Regions from separate parts of the Homo sapiens genome. Here region 2 is linked to region 1. A link means that fine-mapping ties the variant in region 1 to the expression of a gene that starts in the linked region. Tissue or cell type: iPS cells. Region 1 holds a variant in brackets; the other region holds the start of a gene. All regions are shown on one strand. Distances are between the middles of the regions.

Region 1 (8,254 bases):
GTCCAAATGAAAAAATTAATCTGTAATCTAAATATCCTGCAGAAATAAAACAACTGTCTCATGGCCCTGGAATTTTAAAATATGACCCTTCACTGATATGGTTGGTAACTGGTGTCCACTCACAAAGGCCTACTGCTAGGAGTCAGGGCACTTTGCTTCTCAGCTCTCACAACACAAGACCTGCCATCAACATAGTTTTGAGTTACACTCAAAAGGCAGTATGTGAATGTTACCAGGATCATGTGTCTCTTTCATGCCATGAAAACTCACTCTAACTAGATCATAGGCTTGCAGCCTATGGGCCAGGTTCACCGAAAGATTTGTTTGGCCTGCTATTTTCTTTTTAATTAGTTGTTAACTTTAAAAAATTAGATTTCATATACAATTCCATATTACCAGTGGGCATGAATTTCTTCAGGGCAATCATCTAGAGCTGAGTAGCAGTATTCCTTCTGCTGGAGGCAAGCCGCCTGCAGTGCCCGACTGTGCCCACCATGCCAGGTTCCTGTGAATATACAGCACAGTGATAAGAGCTAGGGTCCTCTGGCTGTGTGACCTTGAGCAAGCAGTTTTTCTTCTCTGACCTGTATCATCCTCTTATACACAATGGGCATACTTATAGTGTTTATCTCATTAGATCACCTGGGGGATTAAGGGAGTTAAAATTTGTAAAGCACTTAGAGCAGTGCTTGGCACACAGTAGAAACTCAACAAATGTTAGTTATTATTATTATTATTATTAACTCTTTTTTTGTTTGTTTGTTTGTTTGTCTGTTTGTTTGAGATGGAGTTTCGCTCTTGTTGCCCAGGCTGGAGTGCAATGGTATGATCTCGGCTCACTGCAACCTCCACCTCCCGGGTTCAAGCAATTCTCCTGCCTCAGTCTCCCAAGTAGCTGGGATTACAGGCATGCACCACCATGTCCAGCTAGTTGTTTTTTTTTTTGTTTGTTTTTTTTGTTTGTTTGTTTGTTTTTTAATCTTCAGTAGAGACGGGGTTTCTCCATTTTGGTCACGCTGGTCTCAAACTCCCAACCTCAGGTGATCTGCCCACCTCGGCCTCCCAAAGTGCTGGGATTATAGGTGTGATCCACTGTGCCTGGCATTATTATTATTATTAATTCTTATTCTCCTTATCATCTTACCTAGTTCACTTGCCTCACATTTTTACTTGTCTGATCCCTATTGGTGTTCGTGTTTTTGACTCCAACTCTAGGTAAAGCCCTACCCTCAACTGGAGGTAAAGAAGACAGCTAGTCTCCTGTGTGTTAGGCAGTGAGTGGGGCCAGCTGAGGTTATACTCAGTGATTAAGAGCCCAGATTCTACAGTCAGACAGCGTGAGTTCCAATCCCAGTTCTTCCACTTTCCAGCAATACTGCCTTTTGCAAATTAGTTAATTCTCTAAAACCTGTGTTCGCTTATGTAAAATAGTAATAAAACTGTTGTGAATTGCAGGAACAGGAAAACAGACAACACATGTTCTCACTTATAAGTGGGAGCTGAACGATAAGAACACATGGACACGTTGGGGGCAACAACACACACTGGGAGGAGGGGAGGGAGAGCATCAGGAAGAATAGCTAGTGGATGCTGGGCTTAATACCTAGGTGGTGGGTTGATTTGTGCAGCAGACCACCATGGCACACGTTTACCTATTTAACAAACCTGCACATCCTGCACATGTACCCTGGAACTTAAAGTAGGAGTTGAAGAAAAAAAAAACATGTGAATTAATGTGCCTAGTACATAGGTTTTAGCTTTTATTATTAACAACCTACAGCAGACCCCAACATTCTCCACCCCGCCCCGCCCCCACCCCGACCCCGCCCGACAACCTCTGGCCTTGGCTGTCTTATTTCTCCCAACAGGCTGCCAGTGCCATTCAGCAGTGTGAGCCTTCCTGGAGGCTGTTTCCCAGGGGAATTTCTAGGTCTTTGGGAGATATGAATTGGGAGGAAATCAGGTATAGGTTGGAGCCACTCATTCTCAATTCCCTAGCTCCCCTTTACCTTGTTACCCCAGAATATATATCACAAATGGCATTAAAACTTACATGGCCTTATAATGACTATTGTGTCCTTTCTAGCTTCTTGAAATTAAAAACAATTCTTCTGTGATTATTCCTACCATTTCAAATAGTAAAGACATCTAAGCATATGACAAAGAGATGAAGGTATTCCAGGTCCTTAATGTTTTCCAAAATAATTTACTTGTCCTCTGGACAGACTTCAATTGATTGCCTTGGCAGTGGGGCCTCCAAACTACAGTGTGAACTCTCTTCAAATCTTATCAAGGATTTAAAAATAACACTCTAGATAGCCACATTAAAGTGTTCCTGAGAACAGATGACCTCAACAGTATTTTCTGAAGAGTGCTTTCTACTATTCAACTTGTTTTAGGCTCTGTAATTCTAAGATTTTTTATTTTTTAAAAGAAGTGTTTCTAAGACAGTAGCAACTATCAAGGTGTTGACTCAATAGAAAAATCTTTCTTATAAAATTATTGTCTGTAGAAAAAAAGTTTCAGAATTTCAATGACAATAAAGATTCAAGAATAGCTGAATGTAAGTTGATTTTTAAAACTTAATCAGGAAAAACACAAGCATGATCATAGTGCCTTATTTTTTAAGCCAAAAAAAAGAACAATCAAAAAATCCATCAACAGTAGATGGGTAAATTACTTGTGGCAAATTCATATGCTAGAATACAACAAAGAAAAAGAATAAACTGCTGCTACATGCAATGACAGCAATGACAAGGATGAATTTTGCAGACATAATGTTAAGTGAAAGAAACAAATCTCAGAATAGTGGTTACCCTAGAGGGACATGGATGGGAAAGGGACACAAGGGAATTTTCTTGAGTATTGGAAATGCTTTATATCTTCAACTGGGTGTTGTTTACATAGGTTTGCACATATGTAAAAAGCTATTGAGCTATACATTGAAGTTTAGTAGACTTTACCATGTTTAAGTTATACCTCAATTTAAAACGTAAATTGTAAAGACTAAGCAAGCTTTGGATGTGGACTTTCATTCATCAACTGCACATGAATCCATTACGGGCTGTGTGGAAAGTTGGAGTTTTGTCACCAAAAAAAATTGGTATATTTGTATTTGACATTGCCATTCAAATTATTTGTCTTTAGAGTAAGAGCCTTTATTTTATTCATTGAATGATAGTTTCAGTGTTGTTTGTTTTGTTTTTCAGGAAAATTGAAAAACTTCTTTATGTACTTAAACCAAACAACCTAAGTTTGGATACTCCCAGAAGCTTTACATTTATGTAATTCCACACCATCAAGTCCTTTTTCGTTATCATGAGAGTTGGCTATGGGTGCAGTGAGAAGGGAACGGCCTTCAAAACGGTCAGGTCTGGATCAGAATTCACATTAAACCACTCACCAGCTAGAAGACCATTTATAGTTGAACCTTGCAAGCTAAAAATCATTTCCCCTACCTGAACCTCTGTGTTCGCACACACAAAATGTAAATAATGCCTCCCTCATAGCATTATTGAGAGAATTAGTTGGGATAAAAGTTTACAAAACTCTTGGTAGATACTTTGTTTCTCTTGGTTTTTTTTTTTTTTTTTTTTTTTTTTGCGATGGAGTCTTGCTCTGTCGCCCAGGCTGGAGGGCAGTGTCATGATCTCGGCTCACTGCAACCTCCGCCACCCGGGTTCAAGCGATTCTTCTCCCTCAGCCTCCCAAGTAGCTGGGACTACAGGCATGCGCCACCATACTCGGCTAATTTTTGTATTTTTAGTAGAGAC[G/A]GGGTTTCACCCTATTGTTGGCCAGGCTAGTCTCGAACTCCTGACCTTGTGATCCGCCCAACTCGGCCTCCCAAAGTGCTGGGACTATAGGCATGAGCCACCGCGCTCAGCCCAGTAGATACTTTTTAAACAGGAACTATTACTGAATAGAAATTAGCACTTATCTAAATCATTATTTTATTTCATTTATTCTTTTCAACTTTTATGTTCGTGGGGTACATGTTTGTTACATGGATAAATTGTGTGTCACAGGGGTTTGTTGTACAAATTATTTTATCTCCCAGGTAATAAGCATAGTATCCAGTAGGTACTCACCCTCCTTCCACCTTCCCACCTCAAGTGGGCCCCAGTGTCTATTGTTCTCTTGTGTCCACGTTTATTTCATGTTTAGCTCCCACTTATAAGTGAGAACATGCAGTATTTGATTTTCTCTTCCTACATTAATCACCTTAGGATAATGACCTCCAGCTGGATTCATGTTGCTGCAAAGGACGTCACCTCATTCTTTTTTATGGCTGTGTAGTATTCCATTGTGTATATGTACCAAATTTTCTTTATCTAGTCCATCATTTATGGGTATTTAGGCTGAGTCCATGTTTTTGCTACTGTAAATAGTGCTGCAATGAACATACATGTGTATGTGTCTTTATGGTAGAAAGTAAAGGATTAGGCCGGGCGCGGTGGCTCACGCCTGTAATCCCAGCACTTTGGGAGGCCAAGGCGGGCGGATCACGAGGTCAGGAGATCGAGACCATCCTGGCTAACACGATGAAACCCCGTCTCTACCAAAAAATACAAAAAAAGTTAGGCGGGCACGGTGGCGGGCGCCTGTAGTCCCAGCTACTCGGGAGGCTGAGGCAGGGAACCCGGGAGGCGGAGCTTGCAGTGAGCCGAGATCGCGCCACTGCACTCCAGCCTAGGTGACACAGTGAGACTCCACCCCAAAAAAAACAAAACAAAAAAAGAAAGTAAAGGATTATTTTTAAAAGATTATGAAATACATCCCTAAGTAACCAAGCCTCAAAGATGTACATCAAAGAAATGAGGGAAAGGCCAAAACTTTTGCTTATGCTTATTAAACACTATAATCTTTGGCTCAGCCCTGACCCAATAGCGGATCTTGATTTCCTCTCCAGATTTTTCTGTCATCCTCACCCACTCTGCCCATCCATCACTGAAACAGAACATTCCTCTGCTTACATACACCCTCACTACCACCTGAATTCTTACATACTCCCTCACTACCACCTGAATTCTAGGACCCAAGTCCAGGGCCCAGAGCCCCAGCTTCTTGCCTCTAGTATCTTTTCACTAAAGCCAATCTCTTGTTACCAACCCCCCAAAAGTGGTATTTACTCAACAGTTTTCAAAATAAAATATGCCTCAATTATAATTTGTGCAAAATAAACCACTAGTCATAGGCATACACATCTACAGATAAAAGCTGTAAAAGTAAATATAACTTTAAAAGTCTGCCACTTTTTTCCTTTGTTAACTCAATTCTTCGTTAAATTTTTACTTCGCTGGAGGAAATATTTGCTCTAGAGAGTGTATTTCTTAAAAGGAGAGGACTGCTATTGGTATTTAGGGAAGGACGATTCATTGTGCCAGACCGTGCCACACATAGTGAGATGTTTAGTACCCTTGGCCCTACCCAGTGAGGGCAATAAAGATGACTTCAGGAATGCAGCATGGCTAGCAACCAACTACACCTTGGCATTGTCTCCGTGGAAGAGGAAATGGGAGTGACTCCCAGTGGAATGTAAGCCCAGAAGATAAATTAAGGTTGATTGCAGGAAAATAAAATTACATTTCTTGCACATGAGTTTGGGAGTTTGGGGATGAAGCTTGGCACTCAATTAACTCCTATGTAGCGGAAAGAATTCAAGATTAGGAACAGCGCTGCCATGGACATGTATACAACACCTAAGCGAGCACCAGTCAAATCATATACATTACAGCCTTGTCTATTTATTAAGACAAATTTCTCATTAATGGAAGTATCATGAGAGGGAGGCACTTTTTCTAATTTGAGCAAAGATGCCATTATGGACTAGAGGCAGCCCTACTGGGAGTTTGAAGACCTTGGGATCTATGCTCTTACAGGTCACTTAATCGGTATGCACCATTTTCCCATCTTTCAAAAAGATATAAAGCAAAACTGTTAGAGGACTGGTAAGTCAGCTGACTGTAAAGAAGATAAACATGAAAAATAAAATGAAACATATTTTTTAGAAAAGGAATGCATGATATTTTACATTTCTTTTTAATTTGAAGAAAGATTGTGGGATTAGACAGAGGTCCCCAAACTATCTTAGTTCATGAGCCCTTAGTTCCTCAGTAATTTTTTCATTGTGCCCCCTAGGTTTAAAGAAATACTGAATAGGTCCGTTATTGTATAATTTAGATACAAACAGCGTATTTCTGACCTAAAAACTCAGTACCTTTAAAAAATAATGCACATAAATTGAAAGAAACATATTTTTGTATAATTCTTAAATAATCATACTAACAGATGGGTGCCCGCCTAGCACAGCACAATTTTTCAAACTTTAGAAACAGACTGAATGTTGCCACCAATCTTTCCTGTTCCACATTGACAGGTACTTCATTTTCATCATAGTAACTTTCAGAAACCTACCTTTCCAATGATATGACATCATCTAAAACAATGTAGTGCAATCTAATATTGAAATATGTGAACTGCCCTAAACTAGTACATTGAACAATGTCTAACACATGCCAAGTTTCTCTCAAAATTTGTCCCATAGCCCCTTGTGAGTTTGCTATGGCATCTCATTCTCAGAGGACCTCTGTGCACTGTTTAAGACAAAGGGATTAGGACAACGAAACCCTAGACACATTGAGCTTAATTGTGGTAAAGGTGTTTGTAATGGCCTAATATTCACGGCTCTGGAAAGCTATAATTAAGTTAAAAGTTCAGCACTCAAGAGCCTGTTTATTTTCTTTTGGGCACTTGAGATAATGTCTTCAGAAACATTATGAAAATTCTGAGGTGCTGTAACAGTATTTGTAAAATTAGCTGGGGAAAGAGTTGTCCACTAGGATGTAAGTTCCGAAAGGCCAGGGAGTTTTGTAACCTCAGTGTCTAGAATAATGTCTGGGATATTACTAGTCCTTAATAAGTATTTGATAAATTAATGAAAGAAACACGAAATCACTTACATATTGAAGTCTTGGTGTTTTTAATAGAGTTGCAGAGTTGGCTTGGGTTTCATCCTTTTCTCTGTTTTTCCTTAGTCAGTGTCCTTCCAAATGAAACCTAAGCAACAGTGTAGTTACAGATTATAGATGTAAAAGTGTTTACTGCAAATATTTGCTCCATAAATAGTTAATTTTTAAAATAGGGAGGCAAAGTACGGATGGTGGTGAGGATACAGGCTTTGGGGTAAGACAAATCTGGGTTTGAATTGAGTGACATCAAATTTCAATCATCAAAATTTAATCAAATTATCAACTTTCAAATCAATTATCAAAATTCAATTATCAAATTTATCTGGGTCCCAGCTTTTTTTAATGCAATTTAGGGATAAACATAATATTAGACATGGTTGCTGTAAAGGTTAAACGAGAAAACATATGTGAAGCACTTAGTGCAATCCTTGGAATATATGAAGTGTAAATGAGAGCTATTACCCTATTAGGCAATTTTCAGTTTACTTGGCTCATCTCATTCCTCACTCAGAAGGTGAGTTTTAAGGCATATGAGTAGGACTGTACATTATATACACCAGGCAAATGCTACTTTAGCACTGCCCTGGAATGCTTTTCCACTAGACATCCACTTCCTTCCTGTGGGTCTTTGCTCAAATTCCCCTTAGTGAGGCGTACACAAAACTTGCTATTTATAATTGCACCTCTCCATACTCCTTACCCTGATCAGCTTTTCTCCCTAACACTTATCACCTTACAATATACTATTTTCTATTTTGTTTATTTTGAGTCTGTCCTTACAAGAACATAAACTCCGGGAAGGCAGAGATTTTTGTCCGTTTTGTTCAATGATGCCTAAGGTCGTAGATCAGTCCCCAACACTGGGTAGTCACTCAATAAATATTTGTAGAATTGAATTTATGTGATGTGAATATATTCCCACTGAATTTTGTACTTTTTAGTTTGGGTCCATTTAGCTTGTCAGCATGATTTTGAAAAATGATTACCCGCTTTCATCCTGCATCTTTAAGTATGACTCATCACTCACATACCATATAACCAGCACTCACAGAGGAAAGCTCCAGGTACCCAGCTCAGTTCAATTACTAGCTGTGTGAACCTTGGCAATTTATTCAGCTTCTCTGTGTCTTGAATGCATCATCTATACATGGGGATAAAAGCCATCTCTACTCCATAAAACTGCTAATGAGGATTCAATGAGGTAATGCATATGGAGTGCCTACAACAGTGCCTGGCACACATTCAATAAATATTAGCTATTATGATTATATTTACAGCCAAGTCCA
Region 2 (5,000 bases), 80 kb after region 1:
GCCACTGCTAATCTGACAGGAGGCAGAGCTCAGGTGGTAATACAAGTGATAAGGAGAGGGTGTAAATACAGATGAAACTTCACTCGCTCGCCCACTGCTTACCTCCTACTGTGTGGCCTGGTTCCTAACAGGCCATGGACTGATACTGGTCTCTGGCCCAGAGGTTGGGGACTCCTGTGTTAGAACATGTAGATGCCAAGTACCTGTGCCAACCACAGGTCCACCTTTGCATACTTGACCTTACCAGTATTTTATGAATATATATGTACAGCTCCCATGTTACCAGTGAAGGGTCTTGACTATGAGTCATACAGGTTCTTGGCGTTTGAACAAAGAATTGGACAAAACACATAAGCAAAGCAATGAAAGAATGGAGCAATGAAGGCACAGATGTGTTGAAACAAAAGTACACTCCACAGCTCAAGAGCACCTGTTACAGAATTTTCTGGGATTTAAATACCCTCTAGAGCGTTCCCATTGGTTACACCCTATGTAAATGAAGGAGTGGCCCATAACCAGCCTGCTTGGTTGCAGGAGGTGACCAATCAGAGGCTGAAGTGAAGTTACAAAGTTACACATGAGGACTTGGCCTGCTACCAGTCTGATTATTTGCCAGAGGGGACCAGTCAGAGGTACTTTCCATTTTTTCATCTGCAATGCAGTGCATTGGGAGTAGCCTCCGATCCTTTTGTTACTTGGGCATGGAGAGGTGGGGTTTTCCTTTTGGTTCAGCTCTAGGAAGTCAGCAGGGCCTTCGGTTCCCTGTCTCTAGACCCTGTTCTCCTGCCTCACCCATAAAGGGAATTCCCTAGAGATACTAAAGGCTGTCTGTCTCTCTTCTGAGCAGCCCACTCTGCCTCTCAGAGTGTACTTTTGGTTTACAATAAACTTTTTTGCCTACTCTTACTTTGTACTTGCTTTCAAATTCTTTTGTGTGGTGAAGTCAAGCACCTGAACCGGCCCACTGACAACAGCAAGGATAGAAGCAGTGAGATCGGTTACAAGGCTATTACAATAGTTCCCTCCAGAAACGGCAGTACTGAGAGGTGGGGAGAAGTAAGTTCTGGATTTTCTTTTTTTTTTTTTTTTTTTGAGACTCGCTCTGTCACCCAGGGTGGAGTGCAGTGGCGTGATCTCGGCTCACTGCAAGCTCCGCCTCCTGGGTTCACACCATTCTCCTGCCTCAGCCTCCCGAGTAGCTGGGACTACAGGCGCCCGCCACCGCGCCCGGCTAATTTTTTTTTGTATTTTTAGTAGAGACGGGGTTTCACTGTGTTAGCCAGGATGGTCTCCATCTCATGACCTCGTGATCTGCCCGCCTCGGCCTTCCAAAGTGCTGGGACTACAGGTGTGAGCCACCGCGTCCGGCCCTGGATGTCTTTTTGAAAGTAGAGCTTACAGGATATGCTGACTGATTAGACCGGAGATGTCACAGCATGGTGTCAAAGCGACTAATATTTTTGGCTAGAATCACTAAAGTTTACATTTATGAGATGGATAAGACTGTGGAAGGTTTGGGGAAGAAGATCCGAAGCTCAGTTTTGGACCTGTTAGGTTCAACATGCCTCTTAACACATCCAAGCAGAATGGTCAAGGATGCAGTCTTCCACATGGACAGGACATGAAATGTCTGACATCGAACAATAACAAATAACATTTTGACATGAGGAAAAGTATTTGTAATTGTAATTGATAGTTCATTCACTATAATTTGTCCACGTTCTTTTTCAGGCCATGTCATATATATACCTATTAATATTTGTAATAGACAATTTTGCTCTTTTCTACTTAAATTGTTATATACATTTCTCCACATTGCTTTATAGGCCTAACAACCATGTTTAAATTCTGTATCTTCATACAGAGGTAATATTTAAAAAAGAAGACGAAGACAAAAGGACTCCCTTCCCTCACCCATATACCTATGCCGTCTTACTGGGAGCAAACACTTCTTTAGCTCCGCAAAGCGATTGCACTTTCTCTTCCAAGTCGGCAGACGGCGCGCGAGCAGCGTAGGCACTGCTCCGCCTCCAATCCAGTTGCTCTTCTTTCTTTTCCTCACTCTCTTTTTCCTCGCGTCCTTTGCCCCGGAAGTGCTCTTACAACATTGGCTGCCGGCGTGACTTTGACCGCTTCCCGGTGCGTTACCGGCAGCTGAACCCACCCGGCGCCACGGGACTTTGACGCGTGCTCTGCGCTTGCCATGAGACTCCTGGGAGCTGCAGCCGTCGCGGCTCTGGGGCGCGGAAGGGCCCCCGCCTCCCTAGGCTGGCAGAGGAAGCAGGTACCGGAGCATAGAGAGGCTAAATCGGGACCATTCCCGGAACCTTGTGATCCCTTCTGGGCAATGGAAGGCCGTGACACCCCCTGGGTCCTCATGACTGACAGCTCCGAATACTGGCAGTCGCTCGTCAGTGCTGAAAAGCACCTCGGTGCCTGCACATTAGCTCGTTAGCTCGTTTGTTTCGCTCTCTGGTATCCCTAGGGTTTAATCAACTAAAAGTGTCTGTCACTCAGATACTTTGATATTTTATCCACCTTTTCTAAGGTTTTTTTTTTTTTTTTTTGCCTCTCTTTTCCCGTGAATAATTGTGCATTTTGGATGTGCAGTCCTATAGGGAAAGGTTTATATTGTATCTTCATTCCATCTAATAGGGATCCCCATCCCCTGCCACCAGAGTAAAGTTAAAACAAGCTTCATGAATTGTTTTTGTTTGGAGGGAATTGGAAATCTTTGGGGGCTGTCTTGGAGCTACTAGCATCACTGCATAGAGCATATAAGTTCTCAAACATATTTGTCATCTGTGAACTACAATAAAGGAGAAAGGGAAAAAAATTAAGTTAAATTTAAGCTAAAATTTGTATTTTCTATTAAAGTATTTTTTGGAGCTGTCTTTGTGATTTTATCTGCCCCAGTGTGTATTTTCAAATCTGCAGTAAAAAGTGTCTCCCATTTTAATTAAATTTAACTTATTCATTAATTAATTTTAAAAGAATACGTCTTTACTGTCTTGTTTTGAAGTCTGTCCTCTGATTACAAGAGTTCCAGGCTTAAAGGTTTCCCCTGGTGCCTTTCTCAAGCTATCTCATATCCAGTGAGATTTCTTGGAGGAATAATGTCCACCATACTCCTTTTAATTGTCTGTTGTTCTCTCTTATAAAAGGTGCATAGAATTGAGCTCTCGTATTTTTTTCAGGTTAATTGGAAGGCCTGCCGATGGTCTTCATCAGGGGTGATTCCTAATGAAAAAATACGAAATATTGGAATCTCAGCTCACATTGATTCTGGGAAAACTACATTAACAGAACGAGTCCTTTACTACACTGGCAGAATTGCAAAGATGCATGAGGTATATATTCACGGTTGATTCCGGATTAATTAGAACCAGATTTTAATTGTTTTGTTGCTATTATTTAATAAAGCTTATAAACCTGAAAGATTAAAACAATGGTAACAGCGGACTTTTGACAGTTAGGCTTATCTGAAAGTTGCTTAAGTTAAGTATCTGTGTTCTGGTTTTATTTTTATTTTTTATAGAAGAGGTCTCACTTTGTTGCTCAGGCTGGTCTCAAACTCTTGGGCTCAAATTATCATCCTGCCTCAGTCTCCCACAGTGCTGGGATTATAGGCATGAGCCACTGCACCTGGCAACTGTTTCCATTTCAGTTAAGATTTCTTTCCTTCTTGGAATGCAGGGACAGAGAAAGTCTGAATTGCTGTGCTTGTGTTTAGGTGAAAGGTAAAGATGGAGTTGGTGCTGTCATGGATTCCATGGAACTAGAGAGACAAAGAGGAATCACTATTCAGTCAGCAGCCACTTACACCATGTGGAAAGATGTCAATATTAACATTATAGATACTCCTGGTGAGTTGGATTCTTGGTTTTATTGCAGCTTCTTTGGCAAAAGCACATTTGGTTCTTTCTCTTACTGTGACCCAATTAGTTTTTGATTGTCAAATACTCAAAAGTGTAACACTGAATTCCTATTAAAGAAGACTAACTTAGGACCTAGAGCACTTCATCCTTATGTAGTTTTCTTGAAAATTTGTGCAAGTAAATTGTGAGTAGGCAGATTCTTGCCTTTTACATATTCTAGCTGATTCTAAAGGTGCCTGTGCCCTAGTATTTTCTTGAAGTGATCTTGCCAGGCCCTGCACCTAAGGGTTGGTGAATAGTATTGGTGAGCTCAGGAATCTACATTCTTATTAGAAGACTTATGTGATGAGCAGAGATACAAAAACTTCTAATAGTGCATATATTAAAAATTCAGATTGCTCTTTAAGACCCTCTCATACTTCATCTTATTCAGGGCATGTGGACTTCACAATAGAAGTGGAAAGGGCCCTGAGAGTGTTGGATGGTGCAGTCCTTGTTCTCTGTGCTGTTGGAGGGGTACAGTGCCAGACCATGACTGTCAATCGTCAGATGAAGCGCTACAACGTTCCGTTTCTAACTTTTATTAACAAATTGGACCGAATGGGCTCCAACCCAGCCAGGGCCCTGCAGCAAATGAGGTAATGAGCCTTAGAATAAACAAAGAGGATGTGATGATCTAGACAGCAAACCTTATATCCAAAAGGGTGATTAATTCACTGTCATTAAACTTTATTCTTAAATTTAGTTTTTTAAATATATTTATGTGAGTTAGTAAGTGGAACACTGATTTTAGTAAATTGGCTTGTGGTATGATCTCATCAACTACCTTATCTCTAAAATGGGGACAATATTACTTAAATTCTAGGGAGGTTGAAGATGAATTCAGAAAACAGTCTGACCGTTTATACTGTTTTGCTATTATGAGAGAAGTTATAATCTAGATTCTAAAAATACCTTGTGTTTTATTTAGACAAAAGATCATCTTTGGTTTTAATTTTTCCTTGAAGCATTTTAATTAATGCCCTTAAGTAGTTTGCCATAGAGATGAGATTTTCTTGTTTTCAGACGGAAACATATTTTCTAGGACAACAGTAACACTTCCTTTCTGTACCAGATAGAACC

Direction of the effects. Positions count from the first base shown, and alleles are read on the strand shown. Sizes are in standard deviations (SD) of each study's normalised expression.
For the expression in iPS cells of the gene that starts at base 2,096 in region 2, allele A in region 1 goes with a lower level than allele G (large effect, 0.80 SD a copy in PhLiPS).

Evidence for each region. PIP is the estimated chance that this variant, and not a neighbour inherited with it, causes the effect.
Region 2: GFM1 starts here. The variant in region 1 is fine-mapped to the expression of GFM1 in iPS cells (PhLiPS, PIP 0.95).

The regions. Positions count from the first base shown.
Region 1 is chr3:158,561,001-158,569,254 of GRCh38, forward strand. It overlaps MLF1-DT (MLF1 divergent transcript), which reads right to left. Exons shown (of 5, transcript NR_104147.1): 2 at 6,960-7,056; 3 at 397-505. Among named protein-coding and RNA genes, the nearest start is that of MLF1-DT, 5.9 kb to the right of the region's middle. The variant G/A (reference allele first, on the strand shown) is at 3,774.
Region 2 is chr3:158,642,432-158,647,431 of GRCh38, forward strand. GFM1 (G elongation factor mitochondrial 1) reads left to right here and starts at 2,096. Exons shown (of 18, transcript NM_024996.7): 1 at 2,096-2,284; 2 at 3,198-3,350; 3 at 3,734-3,866; 4 at 4,312-4,516. The coding sequence starts at 2,204.